Linked DNA regions of Homo sapiens: regions 1, 3 and 4 are each linked to region 2. Evidence: fine-mapped expression QTL. A gene starts in region 2. Each other region holds a variant in brackets. All regions are shown on one strand. Distances are from middle to middle. Region 1 overlaps ACOXL (acyl-CoA oxidase like). Region 2 holds the start of ACOXL (acyl-CoA oxidase like). Region 3 has its middle 23 kb from the start of ACOXL. Region 4 holds the start of LOC124907866 (a long non-coding RNA gene).

The links.
Region 1: its variant is fine-mapped to the expression of ACOXL in whole blood (TOPMed, PIP 0.92).
Region 3: its variant is fine-mapped to the expression of ACOXL in whole blood (TOPMed, PIP above 0.99).
Region 4: its variant is fine-mapped to the expression of ACOXL in lung (TOPMed, PIP above 0.99).

Annotation. Positions count from the first base shown.
Region 1 is chr2:111,020,567-111,025,717 of GRCh38, forward strand. The region is part of intron 14 of ACOXL (acyl-CoA oxidase like); the gene reads left to right. Among named protein-coding and RNA genes, the nearest start is that of ACOXL-AS1, 92 kb to the right of the region's middle. The variant C/T (reference allele first, on the strand shown) is at 2,576.
Region 2 is chr2:110,729,982-110,735,132 of GRCh38, forward strand. It overlaps ACOXL (acyl-CoA oxidase like), which reads left to right and starts at 2,592. Exons shown (of 18, transcript NM_001142807.4): 1 at 2,592-2,793. It overlaps LOC124906064 (a long non-coding RNA gene), which reads right to left and starts at 2,444. Exons shown (of 3, transcript XR_007087181.1): 1 at 2,373-2,444; 2 at 1,855-1,923; 3 at 1,380-1,654.
Region 3 is chr2:110,707,033-110,712,183 of GRCh38, forward strand. No RefSeq gene overlaps it. Among named protein-coding and RNA genes, the nearest start is that of ACOXL, 23 kb to the right of the region's middle. The variant T/G (reference allele first, on the strand shown) is at 2,341.
Region 4 is chr2:111,045,940-111,051,090 of GRCh38, forward strand. ACOXL (acyl-CoA oxidase like) reads left to right here. Exons shown (of 18, transcript NM_001142807.4): 16 at 3,279-3,349. It overlaps LOC124907866 (a long non-coding RNA gene), which reads right to left and starts at 4,238. Exons shown (of 2, transcript XR_007087182.1): 1 at 4,122-4,238. RefSeq lists an enhancer at 3,913-4,207 and a silencer at 3,913-4,207. The variant A/G (reference allele first, on the strand shown) is at 2,733.

The DNA.
Region 1 (5,151 bases), 290 kb after region 2:
CCGTGTGTGTGTGCACATGTGCATGTGCATATGTGTGTGTATCTTTGAATATACATTTACTGAGACCCTCCCCTGCACCAAACACCATTGAGAAAGATGATATTTTTGCTGCTGTGAACAAGACAGTCTGCTAGGAGCCCCCTTTGTGAACAATGATGTGGGCTCTCATGCAGCTGTGCTGAACCAGCTGTGTTGGGGCCTGGGGACCAGGAGGGCCAGACAGATCGTATTCTTTGGAGCCATATTTATTTGGGTTCCAGTGTGTGACCTAGAGACAGATGTTGAACTCTTCTGAGACTCCTCTGTAAAAGCAGAATGTCTTTCTTACACAGCACTTCAGTGCAGTGCTTGGAACATGGAAGGTGCTCAGTATGTCCTGGTTGCTGGACCCATTCATAGCATTATCAATGCCATCGATCACTTTGGCATTGTGTTTTTCTAGGAAAATGTGTTGTGAATTCCAGCCTTGCACCTCAGGGGCACGCCTCCCTAGACAGGGACTATTTCACCTGCTCCACCTTGCAGAACTGTCACCTGCCACATTCTGAGCAAAGGGAGATTCTGGTGCAGAGGAGGCTGGGACAGGCAAGGGTGGCAGGGGCGAAGGGTAGAGGAGTGGGCCAGTGGAGGAAAGCACCTTGTACTTCAACTCTGACCTGGGCTCAGCATTTCACTGGGTCTCAGAGACCAGACAAGAATCCTGCAGCTGGCCCCCGAATCCGGGATACAGTCCTGTCTGGGCACTTCTCTTTCTCCGTGGGAAACAAGCTGGGAACTGTGGACATCAGGGTGCTCTCTGTATCCTTTCTCCCATATTCCCTTTTTCTCATATGTAGCAGGATGTTGAGGGAGATTTGTTTACCCTGCTGTCTTGGAATTCTAGCTCAGTTTCAAAGCTTAGGGCAAAGGTGCCAAGAATCCCACATTCTCATCTCAGAAGCCACCAGTGAGCCGCTGGCTACTGGGCCCAGCCCCCTTATTCTCTGGGAGACTCTCCTTGAGGACCTGCCACACCTGCCCTTCAGTACAGAAAGAGGGCATCTCAGAGCTCAGGAAGAGAGGCTGCGGGTGGAGAGGGGAGGACCCTCTTCCCAAAGCCAAGCAGAGGAAACCAAGTTTAATAGAGAAAATATCTAAAGATGAAAGGGAGGAATCATTTGGAGTGCAAATACATGAGAGAAGAGTGGAAGTTGAGACACTTGAATTAACCCAGGAAACAAGAGAGAACACCACAAGGAAAAAGAGATAGAAATACAGGAATAAAAATAAAAACGAGATCTGTTTCTGGGGAATGTAAAAAAGAAAAAAAAGAAAAAACTTGGAAGGACCAAGGAATACAGAAAGGCAGAAAAACACGGCAAAATTAAAAATATAGAAGAGTAAAAAAGTGCTTATGTAAGCCCAGAAAAAAAGACAGAACTCATCTAGACCAGAGAGAGAGAGATGAAAAAATACAGAATAGAAAAAATTGTAAAGACGTAATACAGAAAGAAAAATATAGGAAGGCCGGACGTGGTGGCTCATGCCTGTAATCCCAGCACTTTGGGAGGCCGACGCGAGCAGATCACCTGAGGTCAGGAGTTCAAGACCAGCCTGACCAACACTGGCCAACATGGTGAAACCCTGTCTCCACTAAACAAATACAAAAATTAGCCAGGCATGGTGGTGGGCGCCTGTAATCCCAGCTACTTGGGAGGCCAAGGCTGGAGAATCGCTTGAAACCAGGAGGCAGTGGTTGTGGTGAGCCGAGATCGTTCCACTGCACTCCAGCCTAGGTGACAAGAGCGAAACTCCATATCAAAAAAAAGAAAAAGAAAAATACAGGAAGACAGACAAATATATAAAGACCCCTCCTCACACACACACACACACACACACACACAAAGGCACACACAAGAAAGAAAGTCAAACCGGAAGAGAGACAGGAAGATAGAGATGGGGCTGAGCAGATGAGGGATGGTCCCTTCCTGCCCCTGGCACAGGCAGGGGCGGGCTTACATCTGTCAGGATACCCCCAAGGCAAGCAATGGCATCTGGAGGTGCTTCTGGGGACCCCGAGGAAGGCAGCCGCGTGTTCTGCCCACATCAGCCAGTGCAGTCACAGAGAGGTGTGGGCAGGACCCCCAGGGGCCCCCAGACCTCCCAGCCAGGGCCAACCAGGAGGCAGGGAGGGCTCCTAGGGGCCTGCAGCAGAGGGAGGCGAGGGCAGGTACCACTGTGTTGGAGGTGACCACGCTGGAAGCCCAGGCCACTGGCGACACTTACTACAGAAAGGAAAGAGAAGAAAAGGAAGGAGAAGGAGGAAGAAAAAAGACTCTGTGGCCTGGGAAGATCTGGCTTGCGACATTTCCCGTGACTCTGCAAGGTGGTTACTGGCTAGGCAGTTCAGGGCTCACCCCCAAGAGCAGAAAGTGGGGAAGCAATCATAGTGTTGGCCTCTACTTGTCTATAAAAATATTTTAATGTAGCTGCATACTCCATGTCTGTTGTTGAACTCCATATCTGATGGGCGTCATGTGAGAGGGGCAGCACCTGATGTGTGTCGCAAAAGCTGACATCCAGGCTCCGAGACGTC[C/T]TTCTGTCTACCAGGTGGGAGTGCAGTTATTGATCAGGACTGGACTCTTTCCTGATGATGCCACCTCTGTGCACAGGGAGATGAGAGGGGAGCGGGGAGATTTAGGAGTAAGCACGGTCAAATCACTCTAAGGACATACAAATGGATCTGGGGCTAGGTACAAGGGGAGGAATGTTTTAAACGCTGCCCTGGACAGGACCCTGAAGAACTCAGAAGGTGGAAGCAGAAATGATGGCACTGGAAAGGCCTGATGCATTCTGCAGAGGATTGTGCACTCCCTCAGGTTTCTGCTCATCCTGTTTTAATCAAAAAATGGGATTTTTTGATTACAGGGAGACATCTGTAGCCCGTGGAAGTGGTATTGGGCTGGAAGGCTGGCATGAGGAAGGGGCCATCTGTGGGTCCGGATGGGTGTGGGGACGTGTGGGAGAAGGGGCCCCATGGGAAATAGTGAGATGCAGAGCATGCTGCTGAGCGTTAGGTGGTCCTGGGTATGGAGCAGGATGGAGGATAATTGCCAAGAGAGACACTGAGCCCCTCAGCGTGGCTGGAGGGCAGAGTGGGCACAGAACACAGGGCTGGAGGAAGGCATGGGCCAGACAGGGAAATTGAAGCTGTCACAGCTGGGGAAGCTGTCACAGCTGGGGAAGCCACCACAGGGGCCTTAAAATGCTGTGGTTGGGAGAAGACCAAGGACACCCAGACCGAGGAGGGACACTCCTAGGCTGCGATGGTGGAAGGTGGGTGGCTGGGCCAAGAGAACATGCAAGGACAATCTGAGCACTCACTCACTCAGTGAACTGCCACCTCAGGCCCAGTGTTTTGCTAGTGCTGGGCACCCTGGCCTCCTGTTGAACAGGTCAAGGAGGGACTGTGATCACCTTTAACAATTAGGGGAGGCAGAGTGTATCAGCTAAAGTGCTTGTCTGCTGTGGTTTAACTAAAGAGGGGCTTGCTGTTCTCCCCCAATGAGAAGACAGAGGTAGGCAGCCTAGGACTCAGGCTGTGGCTCCATGACAAAGAAGGGCCAGGGCTCTTACTCTCTCCGTCCTCTCTGTCCCCAGGTTGTAGATTGAATTCTGTCCTTGAAAAAGATATGTTCAAGTCCTAACCCGCAGTACCTGTGAATGTGACCCTGTTGGAAATAGGGTCTTTGCAGATGGAATCAAATTAGGTCACACTGGAGTAGGGTGGGCTTTAACCCAATATGACTGCTGTCTTTATAAGAAGAGCAGAGACTCATGGAAGAAGGCTTTATGCTGGTGGAGGCAGCAATGGGAGTGAAGCAGCTGCAAGCCAAGGAATGTTGGAGACCACTGGCAACCACCAGAAGCCAGAAGAGGAAAGAAAGAACCTTCAGAGGTGGCATGGAACTGCTGACACCTTGATTTCAGACTTCTAGCCTCCAGAACTGCGAGAGAATACATTTCTGTTTTTAGCCACTAGGATTGTGGTAAGGAGTTACAGCAGCCCTAGGGAACCAATATACCTCCATAGTGCAGCCTTTAAAACTGTTCTCAAGGTCACATGGTGGCTGAGTTCCAAGCAGGTAGGTGCAGAAAGGACAAAGAGAAAAAGGCGGTATCTTGTTATCAGGAAAACAGTAGCTTTTACAGAGGAGCTTCCCGGTAGACAACTGCCTGTTCTCATTGGCAAGGGAGGTTACATGTCTAACCCTAGCGGCTAGGGAGTATGGGGAGGTGAGATTTAAAAAAAAAGAAATCCATTTTTATATATAAAAATTATATAATATATAAATGTATAATAATATATATTACATATAATTTACATGAATTAAAATTAACCAATTTTAAATGTACAACTAACCAGTTTTGACAAATGCATATGTCATATAACCACCACTAGCATCTGGATATAGGACATTTCTGTCACCCACAAAGTTCCTTTGTGCAACTTTGCAGTCAATCCCTTCCCCATCCCCAACTCCTGGAAACTACTTATCTTTCTTTCATTGTAAATTTGCCTTTTCTATAATTTAATAGAAATGGAACAGCTTAGGTTTGTTCCTCTTTATTGTGAAGTGGTATTCGTTTGTGTAGGTGTATACAATTTGTTTACCCATTAAGCAGGTGGTAGATGTACGCACTGCTTCCCGTGTTGGCTATTATGAATAAAGCTTCTGTGAACAATTTTATATGTGACTTTATGTGGACATATGTTTTTGTTTATCTTGTGTAAATACCGAGGGGTGGAATGGCTGGGTTCTTCTATAGGTATAGGTTTAACTTAATCAGAAATTGCCCAGCTGTTTCTAAAGTGGCTGTAACATTTTACACTCCCATCAGCAATGATTTTAGTTGCTCCACATCCTCACCAATACTCGGTTTTGCAAGTCTTACTCATTTTAGCCATTTTAGTGGGTGCGTAGTACCTTCTCATTGTGGTCTTAATCTGCGTTTCTCAGATCTTCTTCATGTGTTTATTTGCTATTCATTTTGTCTTCTTTGGTGAAGTGTGTGTTCAGATTTTCTGTCCATCTGTTAAACTGGGTTTTGTTTTCCTGTGACTGAGCTGTAGATGTCTTTACAAATTCTGTACAGAAATCCTTTATTATA
Region 2 (5,151 bases):
GGTCGACAGCATCCTCCTTGCCCCTCCCAGCCTCTAAGCCAATGTACCTATTTTAGTTTTTTATTTAATCAGCAACATTCTTTTAGTATCTTCTATGATTGGCTACGTAACAAATGACCCTCAAAAAAAATCTTAGTGGTTGGCCGGGTGCGGTGGCTCATGCCTGTAAACCCAGCACTTCGGGAGGTCGAGGTGGGTGGATCACAATCACCTGAGGTCAGGAGTTTGAGACCAGCCTGGCCAACATGGTGAAACCGTGTCTCCACTAAAAATACAAAAAATTGCCAGGCTTGGTGGCGGGCACCTGTAATCCCAGCTACTCAGGAGGCTGAGACAGGAGAATCGCTTGAACCCAGGAGGCAGAGGTTGCAGTGAGCCAAGATCATGCCATTGCACTCCAGCCTGGGCAACAAGAGCAAAACTCCACGTCAAGAAACAACAACAACAACAACAAAAATCTTAGTGGCTTCTAAGAACAGAGGCCTTTCTTTTTTCTCACTCAAGCAAACACTCACTTGGAAGTTAACTTAGTAACCTATCTTTTCAGTTTATAGGTCTCCGGATCAAGAGGAGCCACATCCTGACTTGATGCAAGGACCACTCTGTATCCCCCAGGGGCCTCAGACTTGATGTTGTGGAGGTGTGGGGCTTTGGCTGCTTCCCTGGAAGGATGGAGAGTATATTTTGCCTGTGGAAGGGAGAGTGTGACCAGAAGGGCAGATTGAATAGTCACTAGCTCTGCTTACAGATGATTTTGGGTGTTGACCTCCTGGGCATGTCCAGGGTGGTACCTCCCTTCCCCCATCGAGACAGGAGTGAGCTGCTTTGTCCAGTGGATTGTGAGTAGAAGTTATGTGTGTCTCTTCCAGCTGGAAGCTTTAAAAGCCAGTGTGGCCACACAATCATGGCTGTTCTGTCAGCCAGGACCTGGACCGAGGGGACATGGAACAGAACCCCCAGGTAGCATGAGTGAGAAATAAACTCTTGTCTTTTTAGGCCCTAAGATTTGAGGAAGTGTATGTGAAGTCGTTTCGGGGTTGTTTGTTACCACTACACTATTTTGGCTGATATAGAAGGAAATACTCCTCTTCTGCTTTGCACAGGGTGGTGCTTGGAGCTGCAGCATCCATCTTACAACTGGTAGAAGACAAGTTAAAAAAAAAAAGGTAACGATTACATATAGAGAAAGGATGGCGGATGGTGGAGCAGAAAGATGCAAAGGACCTGGGTCCCCAGGGTAGAGCCATCAAATTCACCCCTGGGGCTTTCCTACCACCAAGCTTCCTGTGATGTGAGAAAACAAAGCCCCTTTTATCATGGATGACTGGGTATTATTACTCGCAGCTGCACAGGTGTGGTAGACAGAGGAATGACTCGCCAAAGGTGCTCATGTTTTAATCCCTAGTACCGGAGAGTGTGTTTCTGATATGGCAAAATGGACATTGCTGGTGTGATTAAAGTATGGATCTTGTGGTGGGAAGATTATTCCCATTGACCATGGATTATTCCCATGGGTCCCATGTAAACAAGTCCAAGGGAGGCAAGAAGGTCAAAGTCAGTAGAAGATGGAACGATGAAAGCAGAGCTTGAAGTGATGCATTTTGAAGACAGACGAAGGGGCCAGGAGCTAAGAAATGCAGGCAGCCTCTAGGAGCTAGTAAAGACAAGGAAATGCATTTTTCCCTGGAGCTGTGAGAAGGAACCCAGCTCTGCCAACACCTTGATTTTAACCCTGTAAGTCCTATTTTGGACTTCTGACTTCCAGAAATGTAAGAGAATAAATTGGTGCTATCTTAAGCCACTCACTTTGTGGGAATTTGTTACTGGAAACGAATACAGATGGCATCCACTAACCTCACGACAGCAGACCACACCATCATCTCCCCAGCAAAGTAGCCTCTGGAAGGGAACGGCTAACATTTCCTTGAGTATTTAAAAGGAGAATCAACAAGGTATATGAGAATTAGGGAGCAGAAAGGAAGGAACATTTTCCACTTAGGTTATAACTCATTTTCCTCCAGCCACAACAAAAAAAGGAGTGTCCTGGGAAATGAGTATCGTGTTCCGGTCGATCACCTCGTCATGAATGCAGCTTCCAGCTACCCTGGACTGCAGTGCTGTAGACCTGGGACGCCTTTAGATTACCGTGATATTAGAGTTCACAGTAATGCCCAGTGCGGGGAAGAGGTGAGATACAGCTGAGGAGGGGCCAGAGCTGGAGCCAGGCTATCTTGGGTCGTGGGGGTCAGGCAAAGTGGCTGGCCGGGAGATCTGCTGAGTGGGTCAGCCGGTCAGTCCTGAGCAGCCGGGCCTCTGGTGCCCAGGTCCACGTGACTGGCACCCTTTCTAGGGGTCTAGTACTTGTTTCTTACGGCTCACAAATCTTGAGGGACAGTTGATAACTGGAGGGTAGAGTTTTCGCTTCCTCGGAAGGGCAAGGGGAGGCCACCGTAGAAGCGCCCGCTCGCGCCGGACCTCCCGCCCGGGAAGCCAGGGCAGGGCGGGGCCGGGGAGGGAGGGGAGAGGAAGGTGAGGAGGGAGGAGACGGGCCGGGAGGGGTGGAGAGGGAGAGGGCGTGCGCCTGGGGCCTCACCTGCTGGGAGCTGGAGGAGGCGCGGAGCGAAGCCGGCCCTGCCAGCCACGCGGAGAAGCAGAGGCAGGTGAGCGCGATGCAGCCGGCGCCGGGTCTGGGGCTCGGGGACTCCTCCCTGCACCGCTACCTGGACGGCGACTTCTGGAGCCTCAAGAACGAGCTGCGCGGACTCCTCGGCGGCGCCCGCTCTTCCGGCAAAGGTACCGCGCTGCGGCCGTCGCCCCTGCCCGCGCCCCCGAAGCCGCCGAGCGTGTCCCCTCGGTCCCCGGAGCGTCGCTGCGGACAACGCCCTGGCGAGGGCGAGGTGGGGTGTGCGCCGCGCCTGAGAGGCGGGTCCCTGCCTCGCCGCAGGTGACGGGCTCCCCTCCCCAGGTGTGTGGGCGCAGCCGGCCGCCGCCGACCTCTTCGGCCCCCTGAGAGGTGCCCTCTCCTCCCGAGCTCCCTCCCCCACGAAGAGTCGGGTGCAGGGCTGGGCCCCGCGGTGACAGGCGCGGTGTCTACGAAGACCGTGTGGCTGGAAGATCGGCCTTGCTGGTTTGTTGAACCTGTTTCTTGAGTCCCCGCCCCGCGATGTCCCACCCTTGGTGGGGAGAAGGGGACAGAAAACCGCGATGGGATGGGCGCACAGGGATGGAGTGGCCCTGTCCAGGGCGTGTCTGGGCGTCGGGGTGGGACAGGCTTACAGGACCCCCTCGGAGTGCAGGTGTGCGGAATGGGCAGCTTCAGCGGGGCGGTTTGGTTATAAGAAGAACTCAGGTCCTCGATGTCATCCGATGCCAGGACAGCCCTGAGAAGCAGGCAGAGGGTTGAGTGCTTGAGCTGCACTGGAGATAGAGAGATGGTTCAGTCACCGGACAGTCAGGACCAGAACTCGGCATTCGTGTCTCCTGTGGGCTCTCTTTCTCATACCCATTTCAAGCAGTCTGAAAAGCCCAGTTGGAGGCATGCTTTGGAGTTCTAGCTTAAGAAAGGCCCTATTAAAAATGTCAGTATGTGCCCGTGGAGGATTAATTGGTTAGCCATGCCCACTTAGCCCTCGTTTAATTTATTTTGCGGAAATGAGAGGGAAGGAGATGGCTTGAGTGAACGTCAGGCTGTCCTTGGAGAATCTGGGGTTCCTGCACTGAGGTTACCTAGTGGGGAGTTGGGGGCGTTTGAAAGTTGAAAAGTGAGAAGTGTGGGATGGTGGGTATATCCATCAGTGTCTCGCCGACTTCTCTTTCCCTCTCTCTCATACATAGTTCTTTAAGTTATGGTTCTCAAAGTGTGGTACAGGGAGCCCTGGGGGGACCCAAGAGCATTTCAGGCGGTTCATGAGTACAAACTGTTTTTATAGTAATACAAAAAAAGTTATTAGCTTTTTCACTCTCATTCTCTCACTAATGTACAGTGGCAGTTTCCAGAGACCACATGATGTGTAGTATTCCAGCAGAAAAAATATAGAAGCAGACATGAGAATACAGCTGCTTTCTATTAAGACAGACAGTAAAGGGATTTGTAAAAATATAGAACGATGCTACTCTTCTTGCTAACTTTTTTTGTTTTGGAAAATAGTTATTTTCATAAAATACACTAATAGATTTATTAGTTATTTTCAAATGAATTAATAAACATTTGAAAACTTTTCTGTTTTAATTTCTAATACGGGAAATATCAGTGGATATAACCCACCCAAATAAAAGCTCTTTGGGGACCTCATAATTTTTTTTTTTTGAGACGGAGTCTGACTCTGTTGTCCAGGCTGGAGTGCTGTGGTGTGATCTCAGCTCACTGCAACCTCCACCTCCTGGGTTCAAGCGATTCTCCTGTCTCAGCCTCCGGAGTAGCTGAGATTACAGGCACCCACCACCACGCCTGGCTAATTTTTTGTATTTTTAGTAGAGATGGGGTTTCACCGTGTTGGCCAGGCTGGTCTTGAACTTCTGACCTCAAGCGATCCGCCTGCCTCGGTCTCCCAAAGTGCTGGGACCTCATAATTCTTAACAGTGCAAAGAGTTCCTAAAATCAATGTTTGTGAACGGCTGCTTTAAGTCATACTGAGTTCAGTCGCATCTGATTAGACACACATCCCCTCCTATATTCCTCAGTCTTTTCAGTTTGTTCCTGGGCTATCACCTCTTTGTCTTTCAGTTTAGATAACTGCAGTTTAAAAGACGGAACAAAATTGTAATAACCAAACTACTGATTTGAGGCAAGCAGAAGGGACTTCCTTGTGAATTCCATAGGGACAGAGGAAAGGCATGCCTGGATAAGGGGTCCAGTGTGGCAGTTTATTTCCTGTGTGACCATTGTCCTGGATTTTTTTTTCCCCCTTATTGACTTACATTTGTTCATCTACAGAATGCAGATAATATCAATGCTGCTGTGTTATGAAGCTTGAATGAAAAACTGTTGCGTGGGCATGGAGTAAACACTGGTTGTGGTGGGATACCAAAACACACTTGCACGCAAAGGGAAAAGCAAAAATCCCATTACCCTGACAAACACTTTTCCATTCTTTCCAGTTCTTGTTTATTTACTTTATAGTTCAGAGTTGTAGTAATGGCATGAACAACATT
Region 3 (5,151 bases), 23 kb before region 2:
TTGAGGAATATTGCCATCGTAACAATATTAAGCCTTCCAAATTAGTAGCACAGGATTTGTTTCATTTATTTAGGTATTTGATTTCTTTCAACAATGTTTTGTAGTTTTCAGTGCACAAGTCTTGCTTTTTGGTTAGATTTATTCATAAAAGTATCTTATTCTTTTTGATGGTTTTATAAATTGAATTGTTTTCTTAAATTTCATTTTTGGAATGGTATATAAAATACAGTAGATTTTGTATATTGATTTTGTAACCTGCTGCTTTGCTGAATTTATTTATTAGCTCTAATAGTTTTGTGACTGATTAATATTTCCTATATATAATATTACATCAAGCTGGGGCAACATAGCAAGACCCCATTGCTACAAAAAATTAAAAATTAGCTGGGGAAGGTGATATGTACCTATAGTCCTAGCTACTCAGAAGGCTGAGGCAGGAGGATCACTTGAGCCCAGGAGTTTGAGGTTATAGTGATCTGTGACTACACCACTGCAACTGCACTCCAGCTTGGGCAATAGAATGAGACTCTGCCTCAAAAAGAAAAAAAAAATGGTATCATCTGCAAATAGTTATAGTTTTACTTCTCTCTTTACAAGTTGGGTGACTTTTATTTCTTTTTCTTGCCTAATTGTCCTGGCTAGACAGTTCAATAAAATGTTAAATAACAGTAATGTGAGCAGACATCCATGTCATGTTCCTGATATTAGGGTGAAAGCTTTCAGGTATTCACTATTAAGAATGATGTTAGCTGTGGGTTTTTCATGGCTTCCCTTTATTGGGTTGAGAAAGTTCCCTAGTTTGTTGAGTATTTTGTTTTGTTTCTTATTATGAAAGCAGGATGGATTTCATCAAATGCTTTTTTCCTATATCTGTTGAGTTGGGATGATCATGTGGAGTTTTTTCTTCATTCTATTAAAACGATGTATTATATTGACTGATTTTCATATGTTGACTCACTCTTGCACTCAAGGGATATATCTCATATACAATTTTTTAATATGCTGCTGGATTCAGATTATTTGTATTTTATTGAGGATTTTTGCCTCTGTATTCATAAGGGATATTGGTTGCCAGTTTTCATCTTTGTGATGTCTTTGTCTGGCTTTGGTATCAGGGAAATACTTGCCTCATAGAATGAAGAAGTGGTCTTTTTTCTTCCAAATTTTGGAAGAATTTGAGATGGATTGGCATCAATTCCTCTATAAATGTTTGGTAGAAATCTGCTATGAAGCAATCTGGCCTTGGGCTTTTCTTTGTTGGAAGATTTTTTAAATTACCAATTCAGTCTCTTCATCTGTTGTATTCAGATTGCTTATTTTTTTTTCTTCTGTCAGTTTGACTAGTTTTGTGTGTTTCTAGGAATTTGTCAATTTCATCTGTTATCTATTTTGTTGGCATGCAATTGTTCATAGCACTCTCTTGTAATTCTTTTGATTTCTGTTAGGATGGTAGTAAAGTCTCCACTTTAATTCTTGATTTTTTTCTTCTCTCTCTCTCTCTCTGTCTCTCACTCTCTCTCTCTTTTAATCAGTCTAGCTAAAAGTTTGTCTTCATTTTTTAAAGTAGAGATGGGGTCTCACTATGTTGCCCAGTCTGGTGTCAAACTCCTGGCCTCAAGCAATCCTCCTACCTCAGCCACCCAAAGTTCTGGGAATGCAGTTGTGAGCCACCACATTTTGCCAGCCAAATTTGCCTATTTTATCAATCTTTTCCAAGAATAAACGTTTGGTTTTGTTGATTCTTTCCATCATTTTTCTGTCTTCTATTTCATTTATCCCTGCTCCAGTCTTTGTTATTTTTTCCCCTTCTGCTCTTTGGGTTTAATTGCTTTCCTTTTTCTAGTTCCTTAAGGTTGAAGTTCAGTTGATTTGAATCTTTTTTCTTTTCAATGTGGGCACTTACAGCCATACATTTCTCTCTGCCTGCTGCCTTTGCTGCATCTCATAGGTTTGGGAATGTTTTGTTTTTCTGAAAGTATTTTCAATTTTCTCTTGTTATTTCTTTTTGATCCATCAGTTATTTAAGAGTGTGCCATTTAATTTCCACAAATTTCTGAATTTTCTAAATTTCCTTCTGCTATTGATTTCTAAGTTTATTCCATTGTGTCAAAGAAGATACTTTGTATGCCTTCACTTGTTTTACACTTATTGAGGCTTCATTTGTGGATTAACCTATGGTCATCCTGGAAGTTGTTCCATTAGCACTTGAAAATAATGTATGTTTTGCTGTTGTTTAGTGAAATGCTATATATATGTCTGTTCAATTCAGTTGGTTTAAAGTGTTGTTCAAGTCTTCTGTTTCCTTGTTTATCATTTCTTTAGCTGTTCTTCTTTTTTTTT[T/G]TTTTTTTAGATGGAGTCTTGCTTTGTCACGTCACCCAGGCTGAAGTGCAGTGATGCAATCTCGGCTCACTGCAACTTCTGCCTCTCGGGTTCAAGCGATTCTCTTGCCTCAGCCTCCCGAGTAGCTGGGATTATGGGCACCCGCCCCCACACCCGACTAATTTCTGTATTTTTAGTTGAGACGGGGTTTCACCATGTTGGCCAGGCTGGTCTCAAACTCCTGACCTTAAGTGATCCACCCACCTCGGCCTCCCAAAGTGCTGGGATTACAGGTGTGAGCCACTGCACCTGGCCATGGTTAGTTGTTCTATTCATTATTGAAAGGAGGGTGTTGAATTTTTCAACTTTTATTATTTAACTGTCTATTTCTCACTTCAATTCTGTTAGTTTTTGCTTCATATATTTTGAGACTCTGTTATTGAGTGCATATGTTTATACCTGTTATATATCTTAATAAATTGACCCTTTTATCATTATATAAATGCCCTCCTTGCCTCTTGTAACAATTTTTGTCTTAAAGTCTATTTTGTCTGACATTAGTAGCCACTCCAGCTCTCTTTGGGTTACTATTTTCATGGAATATCTTTTTGTGTCCTCTCATTTTCAACCTATGTGTGACTTGAAACAAAAATGAGTATCTTGTAGCTGGGGTATAATTGGGAAATGTTCACCCATTCTGCCAATATCTGGTTTTTAAATGAAGAGTTTAATCTATTTTTATTTAACGTGATTACTGATCATTACTTCTGCATTTTATTTTTGTTTTCTAAATGTCTTACATATTTTTTGTTCCTCAGTTCCTGTTATTCCCTTCTTTTGTATTAAAAATATATTTTATTTCTTTTTTTGGTGTTGTCTGTCAGTGTACACAGAAAGATATTTTTTACAGTACCATTTTGATTCCATTTTCATTTCTTTTACTATATATTTTTAGTCATTTTCTTAGTGTTTGCCCTGGGGGTTACGACTAACATAATTTATAACAATCTGGATGAAATTAATATCAATTTTTCCTTTTTTACAAATTTTTTGAGACAGGGTCTTGACTGGAGTGCAGTGGTGCGATCGTGGCTCACTGAAGCCTCCGCTTCCTGGGTTCAAGCAATTCTCCCACCTCAGCTGGGCGAGTAGCTGGTACTACAGGTGCGTGCCACCATGCTTGGCTAATTTTTGTATTTTTTGGTAGGGACAGAGTTTCACCATGTTGGCCAGGCTGGTCTTGAACTCCTGACATCAAGTGGTCTGCCTGCCTGAGCCTCCCAAAGTGCTGGGATTGCAGGTGTGAGCCACCGCACCCAGCCTCAATTTATTCTTGATAGTGCACGAAACTTTTGCTCCTATATATCTTTGCTTCCTCCTTTATTTTGTTACTGTGGGAGGAGGTGGAACTGGGTTCCTTACCACTTATATGTCTTCAAAATAACCAGTGATTCCTATCAGTATATATGTGATTGTTATTAAGAAGAATAGAAGTGGAGAGGGGAATTAATAGGCTCTGGGAGGTAAAAGTTTCTGTGATTATTTACTCTAAAAGCAGCAAAGCTGTAATGAGATATTTGAGGTTGCTGTTCCTAGGTAGTATCTAGGATTGAACTTCATTCCAAGTAATTAAAAATTTTACTTTGAAAATTAGGCAGGTTCTGGGGGCCTATGACTACTCACTGGTTCAGTAATTCACTAGAAGAACCTGCATAACTCAGCATCAGATTCTACTCACCGCTAAGGTTTATTGCAAAAGATACAGTGCCAGAACAGAAAAAAAAAAATACACGTACAGGTGAAGGCTAAAATGCTCAGGAACAGGCTTTTGTCCTTCTGCATGGCTTACACACACACATGTTTTCTTTCCAGCTTTGAAGAGCAGAGAACTCAGGCACAGTTCTGGTGCATACCTGCTACGCAAGCACTCGTGTTGTGAGCCTCAAACCAGGCACCAGGTGTACATCATAGAGGTTCATGTTTGCTTTAAATGGTGTTGATGGTTTAGTATGTCCTACCCCAATGTGCTGGGCACAGAATGACATCATTTGTGAACATTCCAAGGTTTAGTTCTTAGATCCTGGCTCCAGACATCCTCAGAGATAAGCTAGAATTGAGCAAAACAGATTTGCTGCACTGACTCTTTCCCTGCAAGGGGTTACCGTAAAAATGGAATATGAAATGCCTACTTAAGTACAGTTCACAGTTGCGCAGTGTTCTGTATGTCTTAGGGGGAGAGCGTACAAATATAACTTAAATAAACATCCTTTGAAGCAAAGAAAACTGAAAAAATGAAGTCATATATATGTAGAGATTTAGTAGCAGATGAATTTTCCTGGCATCAAACAACTGACTGCATTTGTCCATGATCAGAAAATAGCAAAATTCCTATTTCCCCTTGTTGCAGTGAAGTTGGGCTTTCTGTTAATTTCTGACCCTCTGGGTAGAAATCCCTAAATAAATGGGAAGACAAGGAAGCACCTGAGCTCTAAAGGAATCTCTTGAGATTGTCTGAGTGGAGTCTGGGCAGTGATGACAGTGGAAAGGCAGCAGTCTTGAGTCCATTCTGAAATTTGGCCCTTCTTGGAGCTCTCTGGCTTGAGCCTGGTGCAGTTGCCCTGATACTAAGGGAGCTGAGCAGTGTCCTTGGAGACGCTGCACACCTTAGGCCAGAGCAGCACAGCATCACACTCCACGTAGGCTTGATCTCTGCCTCCCTGTCACAACGCTGCCCCCAATACCTTTGGCCAGATGTCTCATTCCTGGGGGAAAGCCACCTCTCCATTCTACAGGAGCAACACTGCTGCGACCATTTTCCCTCCTCACCCTGCT
Region 4 (5,151 bases), 320 kb after region 2:
TCATGGCTGTGGGCATGCTGGACATCATGGGGACAGGACAGAGTCTGGGATAGGATCCAAGCCCATCTCCTGCACCCTCTCCTGAGGCCAGGGCAGCCCGGACATCTAAACACTAGAGACTGATTGGGAAGGAAAAACTCCATGTGTCATGTGTCACATCAAGGCATCGAACAGGGAACAGGGGAGACTTAGAGAAATCTTTGTACAGGAACCTAAGATGGAGTGCAGACTCACTGCCAGCACCGTTTCTTTACACACAGCCTCACACCTGCTCCAGCAAGTGGGCTCCGGGCTCCACACGTCACTGATGAGGAAGCGAGGCTCAGCAAGGCTGTGTGACTTGTCTAAGGACACACAGCTGGAAGTGGCAGAGGGAAGATTTAAAGTCAGGTCTGTCTGATGCCAAACCTGTGTTGAGACTACTCCCCATGCTGGCCCTGGAGAAGGGTGGTATATTAGTTCTTTCTCATGCTGCTAATAAAGACATACCCAAGACTGGGTAATTTATGAAGGAAAGAGGTTTAATTGACTCACAGTTCTGCAGGGTTGGGGAGGCCTCAAGAAACTTACAATCATGGCAGAAAGGGAAGCAAACACGTCCTTCTTCACATGGTGGCAGGAAGGAAAAGTGCCGAGCAAAAGGGGGAAATGCCCTGTATAAAACCATCAGATCTCATGAGAACTCACTATCATGAGAACAGTATGGAGGGTAACCACCCCCATGATTCATTTACCTCCCACTGTGTCCCCTCCCGTGACATGCGGAGATTATGGGAGCTACAATTCAAGATGAGATTTGAGTGGGGATACAACCAAACCATATCAGGTGGGATCCTGGCCAACCTGAGGAGACAGGGAGGGAGTGCATGGCCCAAGATGGAACCCTGCATGAATGAGAGTCAGGAGCCATCAGGGTGGTTTGCACGGGGAAGAGGGGCTAGGCCTGGTGTGGTGAGGAGGAATGCAGGCCATAGGCATAGGGCTCCAGCAGGGCCAGGCTCAGAGTGGTGGCAGCAGTGGGCATGGAGGCTGGGAAAGAGCGAGAAGTTCTCCAGAAATCAAAGTGGCAGCACTACTGTGGGAAAGTGGTGCATCCAAGGGACATCATCGTACAAGAGTCAGCAGGCATGGGGTCCTGAGGGAGAAATCAAAGAATCAGGCTCAGTGGCCTGGTGGCTGGAGGATGATAGTCCCACAGAAATGGGAAAAAGTTGGAAAGGGCTGGCTTGGTATGGAAGTTGACTGGTTTGGATTGGATGTACAGAGTTCAAGGTAACTTGAAGTGGGTGCTATGTCTATGATAACGAAAAGTATCATAGTGGAGTCCAGTGCACAGGCAGTGAGAAGTATGAACACAGGGTCACCACAGAGAGGAGAGAGCTGTCAGTGAGAATCCAGTAGCTCTCTAAGGAAGCAAGTGTTTCAATTTCCCTGACCTGCACTAAGTAAGATTCTAAGTTACAGCATAAACCTTTACCAAATAAAATAGCCACCTTAAAAAGGTGATCTAAAGAAAACCTAGCACCTGAATTTGTAGATTATTCTTTAGCCATCCTCAGACAGTAGTCAGAGATCAATATGTTATCACACCAAATCAGATCACAGCAAAAGTCCAAAACTGAGGACGGAGTTGAGGGAGAGAGGTCTTGCCTCCAGGGTCTTTCCCAGGCAGGTGTATTCTGAATGAGTGACAGCAAAAGCATTCGTGTAAACTTAACACAGCTTGGGCCCTTATCTCAATGTACAAGTTTCTGCTGAGCCACTTTTATAGGCAAAGTTAATTTTTAAAAAAGATTAAATTGATGATTCTATGTAATTAACACTGGTTTCTGCCAATTGAAGACTGGGTGGGTATATGCATTGGAGAGCATGTGGAAGGCAACATTGATCTCTCTATGGATCCCAAGTATGTCTTGACTGGATAGAGCAAAATTTAAACTTGGAAGAAATAATCAGCACCAGATACAACTGATAGCAGTCAAGATGGCATGGAGTAATTTAGTCAGAGATGAAAGCAGTCTAAGGAATTCTATTTTAGAGTAACATTGAAAACTACAAACAACCTACCCAGACAATATTTTCTTGATGAAAATTCATCATTGCTGATATAGTTCTCTTTAAAATATCTGTATTTGTAGACATGACATCCAGGCATGCTTGAGGTCAAATCATTGGAATCAGACTGTCCCTCAGCCTTGAGGCTGAGTTTAGCTCTGCCCACCTTTGTGGGATCTGCGGGAGTTGGGATGGGACCAGAGGGCAATCAATGTCTTTATTGGCTGGATGGGTGGGCTTGGGATGTTCAGTTGGAGGACTGAGTTTTGCTCTACTCAAAGACAAGAGGCAGAACTCTTCCCAGCAGAGAGCAATGAAAGGTCATAGAGGGTAAAGAGTGAACGCAGCTTTGAGTATAGCAATCAAAGGCTAAACTAGTTGGGTTAACTTAGTAAAAGCCTTAATGCGTGTCAAATAAGTGGTTTTAAATCTGAGGGTGGCAGAGAATTGTGGGAGCATTTTCAAGCATGAAACAATGTAGTCAACACAGCCTACAGGAGGGCAGTCTGTGACTTACACCAAAATAAAAATTGGTCACCACATAAGTGAGCCTTTGATGAGAACCTGGCCATAAATATGAGAAGGGGAATGTAATTTTGTAAATTTTCTAGATTAATATTCCTAGAGCTTTCATGGCCAATTTCAATGGATTACTAAAACTTTTTTTTTTTCTCGTA[A/G]ATCTTCTTGGGTTTCTCTTCCCTATTCTCCTTGAGAAGGTTGGTTGGAGAAAGACGACTTTATATATTTGGGGGAGTTTGTGGGGTTTGAGTCAACACTTGGGGCCATACACCAAGAGAAGAGTTAAAGCCATGGAAATCATGATGGAAGATTGAGATTTTTTAAATTAGCACTGTCAAATTTACAAAGGCAGGTGGAGTCTTCTCAATGAAGGTCCCAGGAAATGGAGATAGAGTGTCATCTCTGGGGACAAGATGACCCAAAAGGAAGCTGAACCCAGGACCTCCTGGCAGTTTAGGGAGGAGCTTTGCTGATGGGAATGGCCTTGTACTCTACTGTAATGACTCTGTCTGATGGGGTGGAGAAGTCACTGTACGGGGGCCCCTGACCCATGCAGGGGACAGTTGGGGAGCTCTGCCATGTCACCAAGGAAGGACGGACAGCATGCTGTTTACGTCTGTTATAACCACAGTGTCCTCCTTCACATCAGAAGGGCTCTGAGGCGGAAGTGAAGTCATTCACAATTTCCATTTCTTCCCTTCCAGTTACCTTAGAGCAGTTCTCCCTAGCAGTGAAGAGCTGTCCTGACCAAGAGGACCAGACTTTGTTAATGAAGGTAGGTTATCAGATAAAGAACTTATTTCCTAAAGGCTCAGAGCGTTTTTATTGCCCTGAGGAGAGTTTCATTTTTACAAGCGGGAGTAAATTTATCATGTCTGAATCGTGTGCTCCAGGGGGATAAGCTTGTCATAGGCGAATTGGAGGGTTGCTGGTTAACGAGCACCACTGCTGCCTGCGGAGTGCGGGAAAGTGACAGGAGAGTGGGTGTCCACATGAGTGGGGAATCTGTTTAACTCTCCAGAGGGCTCAGTTGGTTCTATTTAAACTTATCTGATGGAGTCTTGATGCTTTTTTAGCAGATTTATGAGGCTTGGCCAAATTCCACATCTCCCACTATATTTTTAATTAAGACAAAGGATTCCATACGTTCCCAGTCTGCTGCTTCCTACTTTTGGCACCTTAAGGAATGCTACACAAATTAGACTGTTCATATTCACCACCAGAATGAGCATCTTATGTCATAGATTCCTTGCCCTTGAGTGGAAGACAAGCTTCTTCCCCCCAACCCCCCGCCCCAAGGAACAGTTGTTTTATTTCCTTCCAAGTGACAGGAGCAGAGGCATTTCCAAATGGTATAACCTGCACTTAGGCTGCCTACCTAGGTGAGCCAAAAGTGTGGAAAACCCTGGCAAGCTGCCCACCTGGATTTAATTAAAACTTTGTCTTTGAAGCAGAGAGCAGTAAACAGCAGCAGATCACAAAGGTGCACACACATACTTTCCCACCACTAAGACTCATGCTTTCACACAGAAACCTTGCAGACTGACCTTGAGGTACAAATATTTCCATGATGTCACTTCAGTGCTGTACCACCAGGAAACCGCGTGCACCAGGAATTGCATTTCTTTATCTAAAAACCAGCTTCTTTACCAGGTGTCCTCTGACTTTAGAAATGGGTGGAAAAAAAATAGGGTGTCACTCTGAGGGATTTTCAACTCATTTGCCTAAGATGTGATATTTTTGGTCTTTAAAAAAAAAAAAGCTTTCAGTGATGTTAGTTTTATAATAAAGAAGCGCTGCTCATACCAAGTGTTGGGTTTGTCTGGGAACCCTGATTTTTCAGAGTCCTGGGCGTCTGATACACTGACTTAGAATGATATAGATTCAGGCACATGGGCGTTTCTTGTTTGCCACGCTTAATTCTCTGTTTCCTGCTTTAAGTTCTATTCTGCAAGGACCTTTCCTTCCAGGTGCAGGCTGGCTTTCCATGACCTTGAAGCAGCTCTTGGGCCCTGGATGCTCACCTCTTTTCTCTGCTCACCGGCCTTTGGTCTTTCTTCCCTCTATCCTGTGTTTTCTCCTACCATTTGCTTCTTGCTTCTCTCTTGTTCTTCTCCTACTGTCCATCTCTCCCCATTTGCAGGAGGTGAAGCTCCTGGGCTCCCCTGGAGGTTACATGGGCATCTCAGAGGCATTTTGGGGTACAGAGGGCAGCGACAGAGCCCAGCCCCAGAGACCACACCTCCAGGCCTGCTTCTAGTGGTCCTCATGGCCTCCCCGACTTGGGATGCCGCAGCCCCCTCTGAGTTTCTTCACATCTAGAGTGAGAGGTGAAAAGAGATGTAACCAAAGGCCCCTCCTCCTCTCACCATTTCACCTTCTTGCTGACTTTCATGGTGCTCTGGCTGGCTTCTCTAGCACATTCGGTTAGAAACTAACAGATTGGGGTTGGGAGAGGAAGGCTAAGATGGCCTGAGGTTTCCTGGAATTTGCGTGACCTCCAGTGGCGTTCAGTATTTTGTGTCTTACCTGTTGGTTTCTGCAGACTGTGTGGCCTCAGCAACAGAGGATGATTTA